Linked DNA regions of Homo sapiens: region 1 is linked to region 2. A link means that fine-mapping ties the variant in region 2 to the expression of a gene that starts in the linked region. Tissue or cell type: whole blood. Region 2 holds a variant in brackets; the other region holds the start of a gene. All regions are shown on one strand. Distances are from middle to middle.

What was found. PIP is the estimated chance that this variant, and not a neighbour inherited with it, causes the effect.
Region 1: PCBP1-AS1 starts here. The variant in region 2 is fine-mapped to the expression of PCBP1-AS1 in whole blood (TOPMed, PIP above 0.99).

The regions. Positions count from the first base shown.
Region 1 is chr2:70,082,347-70,090,678 of GRCh38, forward strand. It overlaps PCBP1-AS1 (PCBP1 antisense RNA 1), which reads right to left and starts at 4,669. Exons shown (of 11, transcript NR_033872.1): 1 at 4,632-4,669; 2 at 3,201-3,278; 3 at 1,192-1,341. PCBP1 (poly(rC) binding protein 1) reads left to right here and starts at 5,131. Exons shown (of 1, transcript NM_006196.4): 1 at 5,131-6,857. The coding sequence starts at 5,398. The coding sequence ends at 6,468. It also overlaps a transcript of ASPRV1 not described here. RefSeq lists enhancers at 3,728-3,867, 4,008-4,097, 4,138-4,347, 5,553-6,197, 6,269-6,435 and silencers at 4,558-4,707, 5,158-5,217, 7,244-7,293, 7,384-7,473.
Region 2 is chr2:70,064,534-70,072,865 of GRCh38, forward strand. The region is part of intron 4 of PCBP1-AS1 (PCBP1 antisense RNA 1); the gene reads right to left. It also overlaps a transcript of ASPRV1 not described here. Among named protein-coding and RNA genes, the nearest start is that of PCBP1-AS1, 18 kb to the right of the region's middle. RefSeq lists enhancers at 4,798-4,877, 6,324-6,618, 6,556-6,625. The variant T/C (reference allele first, on the strand shown) is at 4,658.

The sequences.
Region 1 (8,332 bases), 18 kb after region 2:
TCACTTGAGCTCAGGAATTCAAAACCAACCTGAGCAACACAGCAAGACCTCATCTCTACTAAAAATAAAAACAAAAAAATTAGGCCGGGTGCGGTGGCTCACACCTATAATCCCAGAACTTTGGGAGGCCGGGGCAGGCAGATCACCTGAGGTCAGGAGTTCGAGGCCAGCCTGACCAACATGGAGAAACTCCGTCTCTACTAAAAATACACAATCAGCCGGGTGTGGCGGCACATGCCTGTAATCCCAGCTACTCAAGAGGCTGAGGCAGGAGAATCGCTTGAACCTGGGAGGCAGTGGTTGTGGTGAGCCAGGATCGCGCCACTGCACTCCATCCTGGGCAACAAGCGCGAAACTCTGTCTCAAAAATAAATACATAAATTAATTTAACTTAAAAATCAGCCGGCATGGTGGGCACACACCTGCAGTCCCAGTTACTGAGGAGGCTGAGGTGGGAGGATTGCTTGAGCCTGGGGGATAGAGGTGGCAGTGAGCTACGATGGAGCCACTACACTCCAGCATGGGTGACAGAGCAAGACCTTCTCTCAAAAAATAAATAAAAATTAAAAATAAAAAAATTAAACAACCATAGTATGCTTGCTGAACCAGGTAGGTTACAGAAAATAAATGTGGTCCCTGCCCCCAGAGAACATAAGAGTCTTATTGAGGAATCCTTCCCACCCCTTCCAAACCCATAAATGTAAACATCAGGGAAAAGAGGGAAGAGATTTTCTAAAACAAGAGTTAGGAACTTAAGGTAAATGCATTGGCTGTTTGGGGACAGAAAAATAGTAACTGGCTAGAAAGCCTTTTGAGTTTAAGGTAAAGCTATCCCACACATCAAAGTCCATATCAAAAGCATCAGAAGCCATGGAAAGGTGTAATCCATAACTAAGAGTCAAGAGGTTCAGCTCAAATTCTAACAGGCTGTGTAACGTTGGGCAAGTCACTTCACTCCTCTAATCCAAAAATGGCTCTTCTGTAAAATGGGCATAAGACCCTACTGGCAAAGTTGTCTGTGATGATTAAACAAGTAACGTGAAAGCACTCTGAAAGGTTTTACGTGACATACCAACTTAACATAAGAGGAAGCAACAATCATTCCTCTGTATGTAGCATAAATCCTGTGGTTCAACTTCCAAAGTCTAAACCTGACTCACCTTCTTAGCCTTGTTAAACCCCTCAACCAACCTGTGGTCACTGAGAGGAGGCGAGTCATGTGTGAGGCTCCAGGCAGGGGTGGGGCAGTGACTACTCAGTCAATTGCTCCATGTCTCAGTGGTTTCATCTATAAAATGGGTGGTGTGGAATTCACTCAGGTATCCACAAGATAATGCAGGTCTGAGGAAGGGAGTGGAGATTTTACCAAAAGTGCAGAAAACATTTACATAAACCTCCCACCCCGCCAAAGAAAAATAACCAAAGTCATCAAATATCATCAGTCCCTGGACATAAGTAGAAGGACCCTTAGAGATCATTTAATCTCTTGCTTTATAAAAGGGAGAACTGAAACCCTGACAGATGAGTTGTAGAAGTCTCAGAGCTAGACAGGGGCAGAGCTAGGACTAGGGCCCAGAGCCTCAGATTCCAAGGTCCAATGACCTCTTTGCCAGACCACAGCATCACCCAAGGTGTCTGTATGACATGTTACCAACCCCAAGACACATTACAATTTAACCAACGTCCAAACGTGGGCTACCGAAGGGAGAAACTGTTAAGACTCTCGGGGAAGGAGGGAGGCTAAGAGCTGGGGAAGCTGGGAAAGGGAAGGCTTCACTGAGGAGGTGCACTAAGTCCCAGGAGTACATAACAGGAAATTATGGAAATATTTCAGTAGGTAGTCTTGGAAAGAAAGACCTGACAGATAAAATTTTCTCTAGAGAAAAGAAATAAGTTAGATTTAAAAGACCAGAAGAAGGCTTTGTTTGAACATTCCTTGATTATATGCAATTTAGTCCTTTTGTTGTCACCTGAGTTTCTAACACTTGGTAATATTTTTAATTCCCTCATCTATTCTGTCTCCCTATGAGACAGGACTCTCTGCAGAGACCACATCCAGTTTAGTGGTTAAGAATGGAGTCTCTGGACTCAGATTGCCTAAATTCAAATCCTTGCTTTACCACTTAATAGCTGTGTGACCTTGGATAAATTCCTTCACTAATCTGTACCTCTGTAAAACTGACCTAATATCACCACCCATTTCAGGAGGTTTTGTGAGGATTAAATGTGTATAAGCGGTCACAACTTATTAATGGGTTTTTAATCACTTTATAATGTGTCCTTTTTATATATAAAGAATAGAAATTACCCAAGTACATATACTGCATGTAGTAACAAATATTGTTTTGCAAAAATTTTGTTACATATGTGTGCATAAATGTCTTAAATCATAATGTAAAATTTGTTTCTTAGTGGTTTTTTTAAAAATGTGAGACACTGAATACATAAAATAAGGCTTAGAACAATGCCCAGCACACAGTAAGCACCTAGTGCTGTAACTGTCATCGTTGCTGTTATGTACCTATTAAATGTTCGTAGAGTTATATAAACTAACATGAAACCACTTTGGAAAATATATCTGATAGTAACATAAGTTAAAGGCAAAAAGCCCTTCTCTTTGTCTCTCATATCCACACACAATCAGAGCCCTGCTCAGGCACCAGTTTGTTGCTTGGCCCACTAGCTACGTGTTGCATTGAACTGAAGAGTCCACAGACTGACCTAACACTCTGTCATGCTCTGTCAATCTCTGCAGAGAAATGGAGGCTTGGTGCCAGAGCGAATTTATTTTTACCTGGTTGGGGTGCTGGGGTGGGGGAGGCAAGAGTCAAGCCCATGGGGAGCTGACGGAAGCAAGTCAGTCATACAAAAAACCATTTGCTCCCCCAGAGGCAGGTAGGCTCAAATGTGCCACAGACAGGGCCAGACCGACAGACACCTGAGCCTCTGGGCAGGCTGAATCACTTCCCCCTCCCTATCCTCACCAGACACTGCATAAGACAGCATTTCAGCCCGCCCGCCCGTTACAGGTGTAGCTCTTATCAGGAAAAGCTGGGAGCTGCCTGATACAAAAAGGGGCTGACTGCACAACAAAAGATTACCTGAAGGGCTCATTTAAATGACAAGCTCACCTAAACGTTTTAAATAGTATTTAAATTCCAAAACCCTGATTTACAGAAAAACCTGGAAAATGTGCTCACCAGTAAGGAAATCTGGAGGTCCATCCCCGACATTGTGTGACCTTGAATTAAGCACTTCATCTTTATGTTTGTCTTCCTCTGTTTAAAAGAGAGAGAGAGAGAGAGAGATAAGAACACCTACCTCAGAGGACCATGGTAAAAATTAAAGATAGAATACGGTGAACTGCCTTGCATCGGATGTGCTGGCACTGGCCAATGCACAATAAACGCCTGTCCCTTCTAGACTAAAAATGAACACTTAATTGTGGTAAACTATTAATAAGATTCACCGGCCAACTGTCCTATGAAAAAGTCAGAGGCACTGTAGTCTCTTCGTAGCTCTCGTTCTCTCCAGCACAACAGCCCATGCTAGGAAGTCTAGAAAAGCAGTAACTTATCTCATTCCTTAAATTAAACAGAGGTTTCTAAATGCTTTGGTACTGTGGGGACCCAAATTATCCCTTGATACTGCCCCCCTATTATCCACTATTAAGCTTTAAAAAGGCGAGAGATTAAATATTGTGCCCACATTTTACAGTCATTCGCGTTCCCGTTTCAAATTAAAGGGAGGAAAACGCGTTAAAATTAGGCCTCCGACCTTCAGACCAGCCTGTGGGCTTTTTTAAGTCATAAAACTCGCGGAGGTGGAAGGCCCCGGGGAGGAAGAGGGGTGCATTCTAGAGCTTTCGGGCCGACCCCAATTTCTCGTTGGCGACGAATGCTAACCACGTGTCGCCATTTTGTGTTCAGGAAACATGGCGGCCGCCCCAAGGGTAAGGAACAGGGGAGGCGGAGTAGCGCCACGTTAGCCGCTTTCCCTGAGAGATTGTGAAGCACGTTGCGCACGGGGCCCTTTCTGGTCTGGCTTAGCCCAAGGAGGAAGGGGAAAAGGCAGAAATCACAACTCATAGGCCAGCGTCTTGAGCGACACTTCCTCAGCGGGAAGAACCGGCAAAAAAGGCCTTCCAAGATGGCGGGCCCTGACGGGGCCGCCCCCCTTGAGCCTGGCGCAGTGGCTGCGCCCATGGGCCCGAAAAGCAGCCGCGGGAGCCCAGGCCGCGCGGGGAAAGCCGCAGAAACGTCCTGAAGCCCTGGCCGGCAGCCCCTGAACAAACGAGGCCTCCACAGGCGTACACTATTGTTTCTAATGTCGGAAAAGGGTGCCGCGGTGGAAACGACACAAGGGCAGGAGGTGGGGTTTCTGTGGCTTTAACCGAAAGAAACTTGCGAAACGCAAACAAAGCATTATGTAAATGGACGCCATTCTTTTTAGGACCACGTTTCTAGCACGCCCCACAAACAGCAGAGCCGCGATTCGGCAGGCGGCCGTGAGTGGGTTTCGGTCTTTCTGCCCACCGGCCGCCGCCGGGGAGCAGGAGCTGGGGTGGGGGATCCATGCAGGGCGCCCGGACGCCGGGGACGAAAGGGCCCCACGTGCCCGCCCGCGCGCACCCGCTCCGCAGGCCTCGCCTCGCCGCCCCTCCCCCCCGGAAGAGGGCTGCTGCCCCTCCCATCCCCCCACACCCTCGCGCACGCGCTCTGGTCACCTCACGCGCATGTTTTAAACCCGCGGCGTCCCGGCTTGTGCCTGCAGTTTCCGCCGGGGCTGCCCATGTCGTTCCGCGCACGAGCCCCTCATGTAGGGCAGGAAAATAATGTCTATCCCGCATACACAGCACTAGTATTTTCAGTCACCCGCCAGTGCCGTTAGAGTTAATAAAATACGTCATCATTTTAAAACTTTGCCGGACTCACAGCTTCCGCCCATCGTGCGCTTCATTTTCACTACTGCAGTGTCAGAAGGTTTTTTTTTTAAGGACCATGTAAGGGTTGGCGCAATCTTGTGACCTAAAAAAGACGGGTCCTCATTTTTTTTCAAGGGGTCCTGCGCAGCAAGCACTTCCGGGGTCAGAGGGTACGCGGGGTTGAAAGCGGGCTTCCCGCCCCGCCCAGACCGCCGAGGCTGCCGCCGGAGTCGCCACCGCCGCGCCCTCGCCCACCCGCCCGCCCGCCGCTCCCGGCCCCGCTCGCCCCCTCCGCCGCCGCCGCCCGCCCCTGCGACTACGCTGCGGCCTCCCGCCCGCTCCCGCTCGCTCCCGCGGCCCTCGCTCGCCTCGCGCCGGCAGTTTTGGGCCTACACCTCCCCTCCCCCCGCCAGCCGCCAAAGACTTGACCACGTAACGAGCCCAACTCCCCCGAACGCCGCCCGCCGCTCGCCATGGATGCCGGTGTGACTGAAAGTGGACTAAATGTGACTCTCACCATTCGGCTTCTTATGCACGGAAAGGAAGTAGGAAGCATCATTGGGAAGAAAGGGGAGTCGGTTAAGAGGATCCGCGAGGAGAGTGGCGCGCGGATCAACATCTCGGAGGGGAATTGTCCGGAGAGAATCATCACTCTGACCGGCCCCACCAATGCCATCTTTAAGGCTTTCGCTATGATCATCGACAAGCTGGAGGAAGATATCAACAGCTCCATGACCAACAGTACCGCGGCCAGCAGGCCCCCGGTCACCCTGAGGCTGGTGGTGCCGGCCACCCAGTGCGGCTCCCTGATTGGGAAAGGCGGGTGTAAGATCAAAGAGATCCGCGAGAGTACGGGGGCGCAGGTCCAGGTGGCGGGGGATATGCTGCCCAACTCCACCGAGCGGGCCATCACCATCGCTGGCGTGCCGCAGTCTGTCACCGAGTGTGTCAAGCAGATTTGCCTGGTCATGCTGGAGACGCTCTCCCAGTCTCCGCAAGGGAGAGTCATGACCATTCCGTACCAGCCCATGCCGGCCAGCTCCCCAGTCATCTGCGCGGGCGGCCAAGATCGGTGCAGCGACGCTGCGGGCTACCCCCATGCCACCCATGACCTGGAGGGACCACCTCTAGATGCCTACTCGATTCAAGGACAACACACCATTTCTCCGCTCGATCTGGCCAAGCTGAACCAGGTGGCAAGACAACAGTCTCACTTTGCCATGATGCACGGCGGGACCGGATTCGCCGGAATTGACTCCAGCTCTCCAGAGGTGAAAGGCTATTGGGCAAGTTTGGATGCATCTACTCAAACCACCCATGAACTCACCATTCCAAATAACTTAATTGGCTGCATAATCGGGCGCCAAGGCGCCAACATTAATGAGATCCGCCAGATGTCCGGGGCCCAGATCAAAATTGCCAACCCAGTGGAAGGCTCCTCTGGTAGGCAGGTTACTATCACTGGCTCTGCTGCCAGTATTAGTCTGGCCCAGTATCTAATCAATGCCAGGCTTTCCTCTGAGAAGGGCATGGGGTGCAGCTAGAACAGTGTAGGTTCCCTCAATAACCCCTTTCTGCTGTTCTCCCATGATCCAACTGTGTAATTTCTGGTCAGTGATTCCAGGTTTTAAATAATTTGTAAGTGTTCAGTTTCTACACAACTTTATCATCCGCTAAGAATTTAAAAATCACATTCTCTGTTCAGCTGTTAATGCTGGGATCCATATTTAGTTTTATAAGCTTTTCCCTGTTTTTAGTTTTGTTTTGGGTTTTTTGGCTCATGAATTTTATTTCTGTTTGTCGATAAGAAATGTAAGAGTGGAATGTTAATAAATTTCAGTTTAGTTCTGTAATGTCAAGAATTTAAGAATTAAAAAACGGATTGGTTAAAAAATGCTTCATATTTGAAAAAGCTGGGAATTGCTGTCTTAAACTCTTTGTTGGTGCCTTTTTTTTCCCTCCCCTTTTAGCCTGAGGTGTTTGGAGGGAGGAGGGAGAAGGGTGGGCCCGTCCTTGGTATTCTCTCAAGCTCTTCTCACCTTATCGGTAAGATTCCATTCCCTCTGTGCCCCAACAAAGGAACATGGCAGGCTGGGCCTGCTTTGGGATGTTTCCAGGGACAGAGAGGTTCAAGTTCCAGAGAGAGGCCTCTGCCCATTTCTCTGGTAGAAACAAGGTTTTCTCGAGGGGAAAAGGTGTGCCCACTCAGTAGGACCTCTAAATGGCAGAGCGTCCTCTCCATCTAACCAGTTCCCCCACCCCCACCTCACAGGATAAACTTAGGAACAAAAAAATATTCTGGGGTGGGAGGAGCCTGGGGAAGGGGTGTGGGGGCAGGGAAAGGAAAGGAAGGGAGGGCAGTGGGCCGGGGAGGATTGGGGGCTTGGAGGAGGGCAACAGCTGCCGGGTGGTGGTGGGACTAGAGGGGTCTTGGTTGGGCAGCAGGGGTGGGAAGGGGGGAGGGGACGGTACCAACGAGACGCACGTGTCAAGCATGCACCTGTGGCAAGCAGCCTGTCAGAGGATGTTATTACACCTGCCAAGTGGTGTATCCAGAAACAAAAGAGGCCCAGTTTCCAATTCTTCAGCTGTGTGCAATGTTTAGAGAATCCCTATACCAGGAAATAATCCTGCCTAAATGGGTCAGTCTTCACAAGGCGGGAATGTAGACTGATGCACTGACTATAACCTAAGAATGATCTGAGTGTTAAAGATGCAGATTCCTCTGTCCCACCCCAAAACTAATCAGCTGTATTTTTAACAAACACCCCAAAGGAGTCTTAGATTTGAATGCCACTGATTGTCTTCAGTGGAGGAGGAAGATCCCGCTGTGAAGGCCGTAGCACCCTCACGCCCACGTCAGCCAATAGGACTATCCCTGACCTGATGAGAGAAGGAAAACTGCTAGGCAAAGGCAACATTAGAAACAATAGTATGAGAAAATAGAGCCTGAGATGAGGGAAAGAAGAAACAATAGTATCAGACAATAGACCAGTAGGTGCCAAAGTGGGTAGTTCAAACCCCAGGCACTATGGGAGATCACTCATGGCAAAGAGAAGTTCCTGTGGGAGGGGAGTATTATCCACAGTAAATATTCGTTGAGGCTTATTATGTGGTCACGCAGGGTTAGGCAAGCAGTCACTGAAAGGAGCCCAAATTCTGGAGTTAGACTTGCTTTCAAATTTGAGTTCTGCCTCCTATTCATGGCTTTGGACAAATTAATCTCTATAAATGAAGATGTTAAAATTAACACCTTCTGGGCTTGTGAAAATAAAATGAAAGCATGTATATAAAACAGAACAGTGCTTAGAACACAGTAAATTTCAGTGTACTCGATTATAAAAAGCCAAAAGGCCCATTTCTGGGGGCTGAGGGTTGGCCACAAAATCTGGGCAGAGAAGACAGATG
Region 2 (8,332 bases):
TCCAGGCAGTGGCAGAGCATGGGAGGAAGGGTGTTCTAGGCACAATGAAGAGCACACGCAAAGGCCTTGCAGCAAGAAAGCACATCTAAAGAGATGTCATGAGCTGGAGGATGGGAAGGTCAAGATAGGTGACTGATGCAGATGATGCTGGAGAGGCCAAAAGGGCCTAATAGGACAAAGAAAGTTGTTTTACTATTCACTTCACAAGTATTGTCAATAATGTGTCAGACATTGTCCTAGGTGCTAGGAATACAACAATGAATAAAACAAACAATATCAGCCAGGCACAGTGGCTCACACCTGTAATCCCAGCACTTTGGGAGGCCAAGGCAGGCGGAACGTTTGAGGTCAGGAGCTCAAGACCAGCCTGGCTAACATGGTGAAACCTTGTTCCTACTAAAAATACAAAACTTAAGCCAGGCATGGTGGCACACGTCTCTAATCCCAGCTACTGAGGAGGCTGAGGCACAAGAATCGCTTGAACCCAGGAGACAGACATTGCAGTAAGCCGAGATCGAACCACTGCACTCCAGCCTGGGCAACAGAGCCAGACTCCATCTCAAAACAAAACAAAACAAAACAAAAAAAAGGCCAGGTGCGGTGGGTGGCTCATGCCTGTAATCCCAGCACTTTGGGAGGTTGAGGCGGGTGGATCATGAGGTCAGGAGATCGAGATCATCCTGGCTAACACGGTGAAATCCCGTCTCTACTAAAAGTACAAAAAATTAGCGCCTGTAGTCCCAGCTACTCAGGAGGCTGAGGCAGAAGAATGGCATGAACCCAGGAGGCGGAGCTTGCAATGAGCCGAGATGGCGCTACTACACTCCAGCCTGGGTAACAGTGCAAGACACCATCTCAAAAAAAAAAAAAAAAAAAAAAAGACAATATTCCTGTTCTCTTTTAATTGGAGAAGACTATAAACAAATATGTAAATAAACCAGAAAATTATAATATATTGATAAGTGCGATCACAGAATTAAAATCAGGTGATGTTAATAAAAGCATATGGGTAGATACTTTAGAATCATTAGATAGTCAAGGGAAGACCTGTCTGAAGAGATAGCATTTAAAAGCAGGGGCAGGGTGCAGTGGCACAGAGACCAGCTGTGAGACCTCGTTTCTACAAAAAATTTTTTTAAAAATTAGCCAGGTGTGGTGGCGCATGCCTTTAGTCCCAGCTACTGGGGAGGCTGAGGCAGGAAGATCCCTTGAGCCCAGAGCGGTACAGTCAGTTATGATCACACCACTGCACTACAGCCTGGGTGACAGAACGAGGCTTTTGACTCAAAAAAAAAAAAAAAAAAAAAAAAAGAAAGAAAAAGAAAAGGAAGGAAGGAAAGAAAAGAAAAATCAGGTATCTCAATAAAATGAAGTCATTAAAAGCTCAATGGAGGCTGGGTGCAGTGGCTCACGCCTGTACTCTCAGAATTTCAGGAGGCTGAGGTGGGAAGATCACTTGAGGCCAGGAGGTCGAGACCAGCCTAACCAACATGGTGAAACCCCATCTCTACTAAAAATAACAAAAATTAGCTGGGCATGGTGGTGCACACCCATAATCCCAGCACTTTGGGAGGCTGAGGCAGGACAATCGCTTGAAACTGGGAGGCAGAGGTTGCATGAGCCGAAATCATGCTATTGCACTCAAGCCCAGGAGACAGAGACTCTGTCTCCAAAACACAAAGCAGTTCAATGGAAACATCACTAACATCATTTTTTTTTTTTGAGATGGAGTTTCGCTCTTGTTGCCCAGGCTGGAGTACAATGGCGCAATCTCAGCTCACTGCAACCTCCACCTCCCAGGTTCAAGTGATTCTCCTACCTCAGCCTCCCGAGTAGCTGGGATTACAGGTGCCTGCCACCACGCCCAGCTAATTTTTGTATTTTTAGTAGAGATGGGGTTTCACCATGTTGGCCAGGCTGGTCTCGAACTCCTGACCTCAGATGATCCACCTGCCTTGGCCTCCCTCCTAAAGTGCTGGGATTATAGGCATGAGCCACTGCGCCTGGCCTCACTGACATCTTTTTAAGCAGGAGAATTATCATTTAAGCAATCATTCTTACATTTTACTTTATTTTTTTTTTGAGACAAGGTCTCCCTCTGTCACCAAGGCTGGAGTGCAGTGGCATCATTACAGTTCGTTGCAGCTTCAACCTCCCAAGCTCAAATGATCCTCCCACTTCAGCCTCCCAAGTATCTGGGACCACAGATGTTCACCAGCACCACACTTGGCTAATTTGTTATTTTTTGTAGAGACATGGTCTCACTATGTTGCCTTGAACTCCTGGGCTCAAGCGATCCTCCCACCTCGGCCTCCCAAATTGCTGGGATTACAGGCATGAGCCACCACGCCTGGCCCATTCTTCCATTTTATGAAGATCACTCTGGCTGTAGTGTGGAGACTGGAATGGAGGTAGGGGTGAATAAAATTAAGACTGGAAGCAGTGATGATAATGGATTATATAAACTAAGATGATGATAATAACAACTAAGATTCACATAGCAATTAGTAGGTACCAATCTATTATTCTAAGCATCTTATATATATTAATTCACTTAATCCTCAGAAGTACTCTTTTATAAATTTAAAAACTAACGTACAGGGCAGTAGCAATGGAGAGGGAAAATGATTAGATTCAAGAAATACTGAGGAGGTAGGGAGGACAAGTCCTAGTGACTGGTTGTCAGACGTGGGAAGGGAAGGAAGGAATGATTAATCATTACTGGGTTTGGGGCTTTAGCCGCTGCATACTGTCTATAATGTATATGATTGGGCACTGGAGAAGGAGCAAGTGAGAAAAAGCAGGGGGCTGCAAGACATCCCAGTGGGGTTGTAAGCAATTGGATAATCTGGTCTAGAGATCTGGGCTGGAGATTTGGGAATCATCCACGTGTAGATGGTAACTGAAGCTGCCAAAGAGGTTGAGATCACCCAAAAACTGGAAATACCTTAATGTCTTCATAGAAAAATAGCCAAATAAAATACAGCATATCCATTCTATGAAATACTATCCAGCACCAAAAAGAATGAGATATGCCTGTTTGTACTAACATGGAATACTGTCAAAGCATGTTATTAAATCATAGAAGAAAATACCAGAATGATACATAAGATGTTATATCACTTGTATAGAGAATTAAATAAAACAAAAAATAATACTTTAAATTTTTTCTGGGTTCATACATGTGTAAATAAACACACAGGAAGAAGTATGGCAGGTACATTCCAAATCACCAATACATTACCTCTAGTGAATACAGAAATAACTGAAATGGGGAGACAGGAATAGCCAAAATATGATCTACAATGTTTTGGTATTTTAAAAATATCATTTATTATATTCTCTGTAAATTAAATAATTTTTCAAAAAGATTGGGCAGGAGGAGAAGCTTACAAAGGTCATCTTTTGCTTCAGATACTAAATTCTCTCTGTCCTTCCCATCCTCCACTGGCCTTGAGGTTCACGTATTCTGGCTTCTCATCTGTCTACCTCTGAAATGTTAACACCAAGCCCCCTAAGTCCACACTCTATCCCAAATCCTTGGCTCCAGGCAAGCCCTGGTCACCAATCTCTGAGCCTGGGCTATAGCCCCAGGAGGAGAGATCAGACACCAAAATCGCAACACACACAGGGGAAATGGGTATAGATGCCAGCTTCAAGGACAGTGATCAAGTGGCCTTGCTGGCCTCCTGGCCAGCAGAAATTTCAAAGAGCAAAAGGTATCTGAAAGTATCTGGCCATTTGGAGGCAGCTCTGGAGTGCTGAGGAATGGGGCTGAAGTACAGTCAGGCAAAGTCAGGGGTGAAGTGGTAAGGAGTGGGTTGAAGAAAGAGCTAGTTTCACTTGTAAAGATTCCAAATGAAGTGCTGCAATCTTATGGAAACCAGGTTTACAGAAAAAGGAGGCGGCAAGCTGCATTCTGTGAGTCTGGCTGGAGAACGGGGGTTTCTAGGGGTATCTAGAGGAGTCACTTCCAAAGCACCAATTCCAAAAGGCACATTATGTAAAGGTTTAGTAGCTAGAGCAGCAGCAGGAAGCTAGAGATGTGAATAGAAAGGAGGTAAGGAAGATCTACAAATGAGGAAAGATGAAGGCAAGTTAAAGCCTTTCCTTCAGCCAGGCACAGTGGCTCATGCCTGTAATCCCAACACTTTGGGAGGCCAAGGCGGGCGGATCACCTGACTCAGGTCGGGAGTTCGAGACCAGCCTGACCAACATGGAGAAAACGCGTCTCTACTAAAAAAAAAAAAAAAATAACAAAATTAGCCAGTCGTGGTGGCACATGCCTATAATCCCAGCTACTCAGGAGGTTGAGGCAGGAGAATCACTTGAACCCAGGAGGCGGAGGTTGCAGTGAGCAGAGATTGTGCCATTGCACTCCAGCCTGGGCAACAAGAGCAAAACTCTTGTCTCAAAAAAAAAAAAAAAAAAAAAAAGCCTTTCCTTCGTCAGTAAACCAAAGGCAGAGATCATGGGCAGCTTTCTGGTGATTGTACCCTTAAGTTTCAACTTTCTATAGATGAAAGACAATGTATTTGGTCATGTTTTCCTGGTTACCCAAAAAATGACACAGCCCAGGCCTTACCCAACAGCTGATTCACCATCAATTAATCTGTATCACAGCCTGCTGAGCCTCACACCTCACACAGTCACACAC[T/C]AGACAGCTCTGGGGGAAAAAAACAACCCAAGGTGAGCTGTCAAAGTCCTCTTCGTAACCTGACCTCGCCCTCTGGGGTAGGTTTCATTTCAAAACTGAAAGGGACTGAAGGGCTGGGGAAATCCAAAGATCAACAGAGCCAGGAACAGGTGGTTCCCACAGAAGCATCCCAGGTTGGAACTCAAAACAGAAACCAGACCACTGATAAGACATGGTTTATGATGTCTGTCTCCAAGCCTTCGGATGCCATTTATATGTTTTTGATATTTACAATAGGGCATGACCACATTTATCCAACTCCTGACTACTAAAAATCTAATTCTCCAAGTGCTCAAGCAACTTCCTGGTTTTATTACATTTTAGAGCTTCGGGGTAGCTCAATAACTGAGATACCAGGGAACTTGCGAATTCTTTAGCCCTTCAAATGGGCCACAAATAATGAATTTTATCTCTTCTTCCTTCTTCATCTCCCCACAAAGGCTTGGCAAAATTCCTGTCTCACTAAAAAGTTTCTAAGTTGTTCATAATGGCCCTCTCAATGGAGCAATATTCAATACACAAAAGTCTAGTTCATCAAAGGAGTCAGGTTATTTGCTTGAGGTTCATCTGTAACTAGCTATATGAGCTTGGACAAGTCACTTCACCTTTCTGAGTTCTATAAAGTAAGGAGGTTGGAAAAAAAAAGAAAGGGAAGCAATAAAACAACCTTGAACAGAAAAAAGACTTTAAGTTTTTAAGTCTAAAAGGCTCATCAAGTGCCAACAAGTGTTATTTTTAAAAGGCATACACCTCAGCCTGGCCAACACGGCGAAACCTCATCTCTACTAAAAATACAAAAATGAGCCAGGCGTGGTGGCACGCATCTGTAATCCCAGCTACTCGGGAGGCTGAAGCAGAAGAATCGCTTGAACCCAGGAGGCAGAAGTTGCAGTGAGCTGGGATCGTGCCATTGCACTCCAGACTGGGTAACATGAGCAAGACTCCATCTCAAAAAAAAAAAAAAAAAAAAAAAAGACATACCAGAAGCATACCACAGGAAACTCTAAGCATAAATAAAAATTCACAAACTTCCAGAACAAGAGAACAGATTATTACTTACAAGGAAAAAAAATCCCATTGGACTTCTCATCTGTATCACCAGAAACTCAAAACACTGGAAAGCTACTTAGACTTTGTCGAGACTAGGACTAGTATTCCAAGAATTCTAAACCTAACCACAATATCATTCATACACGAAGGTTAAAAAGAAATTGGACATAAAAAGACTTTGAAAGTACCACTCATGCCCCCCTTCTAAGAAAATCACTCAAAGAAATGTCCTACTTGGCTGGAAGTGGTGGCTCACGCCTGTAATCCCACCACTTTGGGAGGTCAAGGCGGGCGATCATGAGGTCAGTAGGTCGAGACCAGCCTAACAGTGCAAAATCCTGTCTCTACTAAAAAAATAAAATACAAAAATTAGCTGGGCACAGTGGCGCACGCCTGTAGGAGGCTGAGGCAGGAGAATCGCTTGAACCCGGGAGGCGGAGGCTGCAGTGAGCCGAGATTGTGCCATTGCACTCCAGCCTGGGTGACAGAGTGAGACTCCGTATCAAAAAAAAAAAAAAAAAAAAAAAAAGGAAATGTCCCAGGCAATTAACATTTAACTGTAACAAAGCCAGGAAAGACAAACTATATAAAAAACATGTTTCCCCTCCCCAACAAAAACCTTTTAATGAGTTTGGACCAGATGACTTCGAATGGCCTTTCCAAGTATAAACAGAAACTGCCCTGTACACCACAGTCCCTGGCAGTCTGGGTTTGTGAGTTGTTCATCACCTAGTGGCCTGATGAAGTAAATGCAGTTTGTCAAGTGCCCGGATAAACTTCCAGCCATTTTGTGAGCTCTGATGGCGTATGCAGCAGGGCAGCAGCCTGACCTCCTAATGATTACAAGAGTAGGAGACTGCAAACCCTCCAAACTCACAGACAATTGTAAAGACTTAGCTCACCATCAATTCATTCTTCAAGGAGGAAAGGAAAGCATACTCACCTTGTAACTAAATAATCCTAAGTGAAGCACAGATTTGTCAGACTGCATTTACAAAGTAGGGAGAAGTAGAAATTGTTTCTGTGCAGAATGATCTGAACTGAAAGCAAGTTTAGGTATTAGGATAAACTGCAAATATGTCTTACACATAGGAAGACTGTCTTCAAAGGTTCATGAGTTTGCATGTGGAAGATGTATTACATTTATTCTGTATAGTTCCGGGGTACTGGTCTAAAATTAGGCCGGGCACAGTGCCTCACGCCTGTAATCCCAGCACTTTGGGAGGCTGAGGTGGGAGGATCACCTGAGGTCAGGAGTTCCAGACCAGCTTGGCCAACATGGTGAAACCCCATCTCTACTAAAAATATAAAAATTAGCCAGGCGTAGTGGCACACACCTGTAATCCCAGCTACTCAGGAGGCCAAGGCAGAAGAATCACTTGAACCCAGGAGGTGGAGGTTGCAGTGAGCCGATATCGTGCCACTGCACTCCAGCCTGGGTGACAGAGTGGGACTCCGTCTCAAATATAAATAAATAAAAACAAAAATTAAATTAATGAGAAGTCTCAATTAGATTTCAATTCAAAACAAGAAATAATTTTCAGCAGGGCACAGTGGCTCATGCCTGTAATCCCAGCACTTTGGGAGGCCAAGGCGGGAGGACTGATTGAGGTCAGGAGTCCAAGACCAACCCAGGCAACATAGCGAGACCCAGTCTCTACAAAAATTTTTCTTTCTTTTTTTTTTTTATGAGAAAGAGTCTCGCTCTATTGCCCAGGCTGGAGTGCAGTGGCACGATCTCAGCTCACTGCTACCTCTGCCTCCTGGGTTCAAGCAATTCTCATGCCTCAGCCTCCCGAGTAGGTAGGATCACAGATGTGAACCACCATGCCCAGCTAACTTTTGTATTTTTAGTAGAGATGGGGTTTCGCCACATTGGCCAGTCTGGTCTCAAACTCCTGGCCTCAAGTGATCCACCCACCTCGGCCTCCCAAAGTGCTGGGATTACAGGTGTGAGCCACTGCACCCAGCCTCTACAGAAAATTTTTAGAATTAGCCTGGTGTGGTGGCACACAGTAGTCCCAGCTACTCAGAAGACTGAGGCAGGGGGATCACTTGAGCCCAGGAGTTCAAGGCTACAGTAAGCTATGATCACACCACTGCACTCTAGCCTGGGTGACAAAGCAAGACCCTATCTCTTAAAAATAAAAAAAGGCCAGGTGGCTGGGCGCAGTGGCTCACGCCTGTAATCCCAGCACTTTGGGAGGCCGAGGCGGGAGGATCACTTGAGGTCAGGAGTTTGAGACCAGCCTAGCCAACATGATGAAACCTGTCTCTACTAAAAATAAAAAAATTAGCCAGGCATGATGGTGAGTGCCTGTACTCCCAGCTACTGGGGAGGCTGAGGCAGGAGAATCACTTGAACTCAGGAGGCAGAGGTTGCAGTAAGCCAATATTGTGCCACTGCACTCTGTCCTGGGCGACAGAGCAAGATTTCGTCTCAAAAATAAAATGAAATAAAATAAAATAAAAACAAAAATAATAATTTTTTGCAGGGCATGGTGGCTCATGCCTGTAATCCCAGCACTTCAGGAGGTCAAGGCAGAAGGATCACTTGACCCCAGGAATTCGAGACCAGTCTGAACA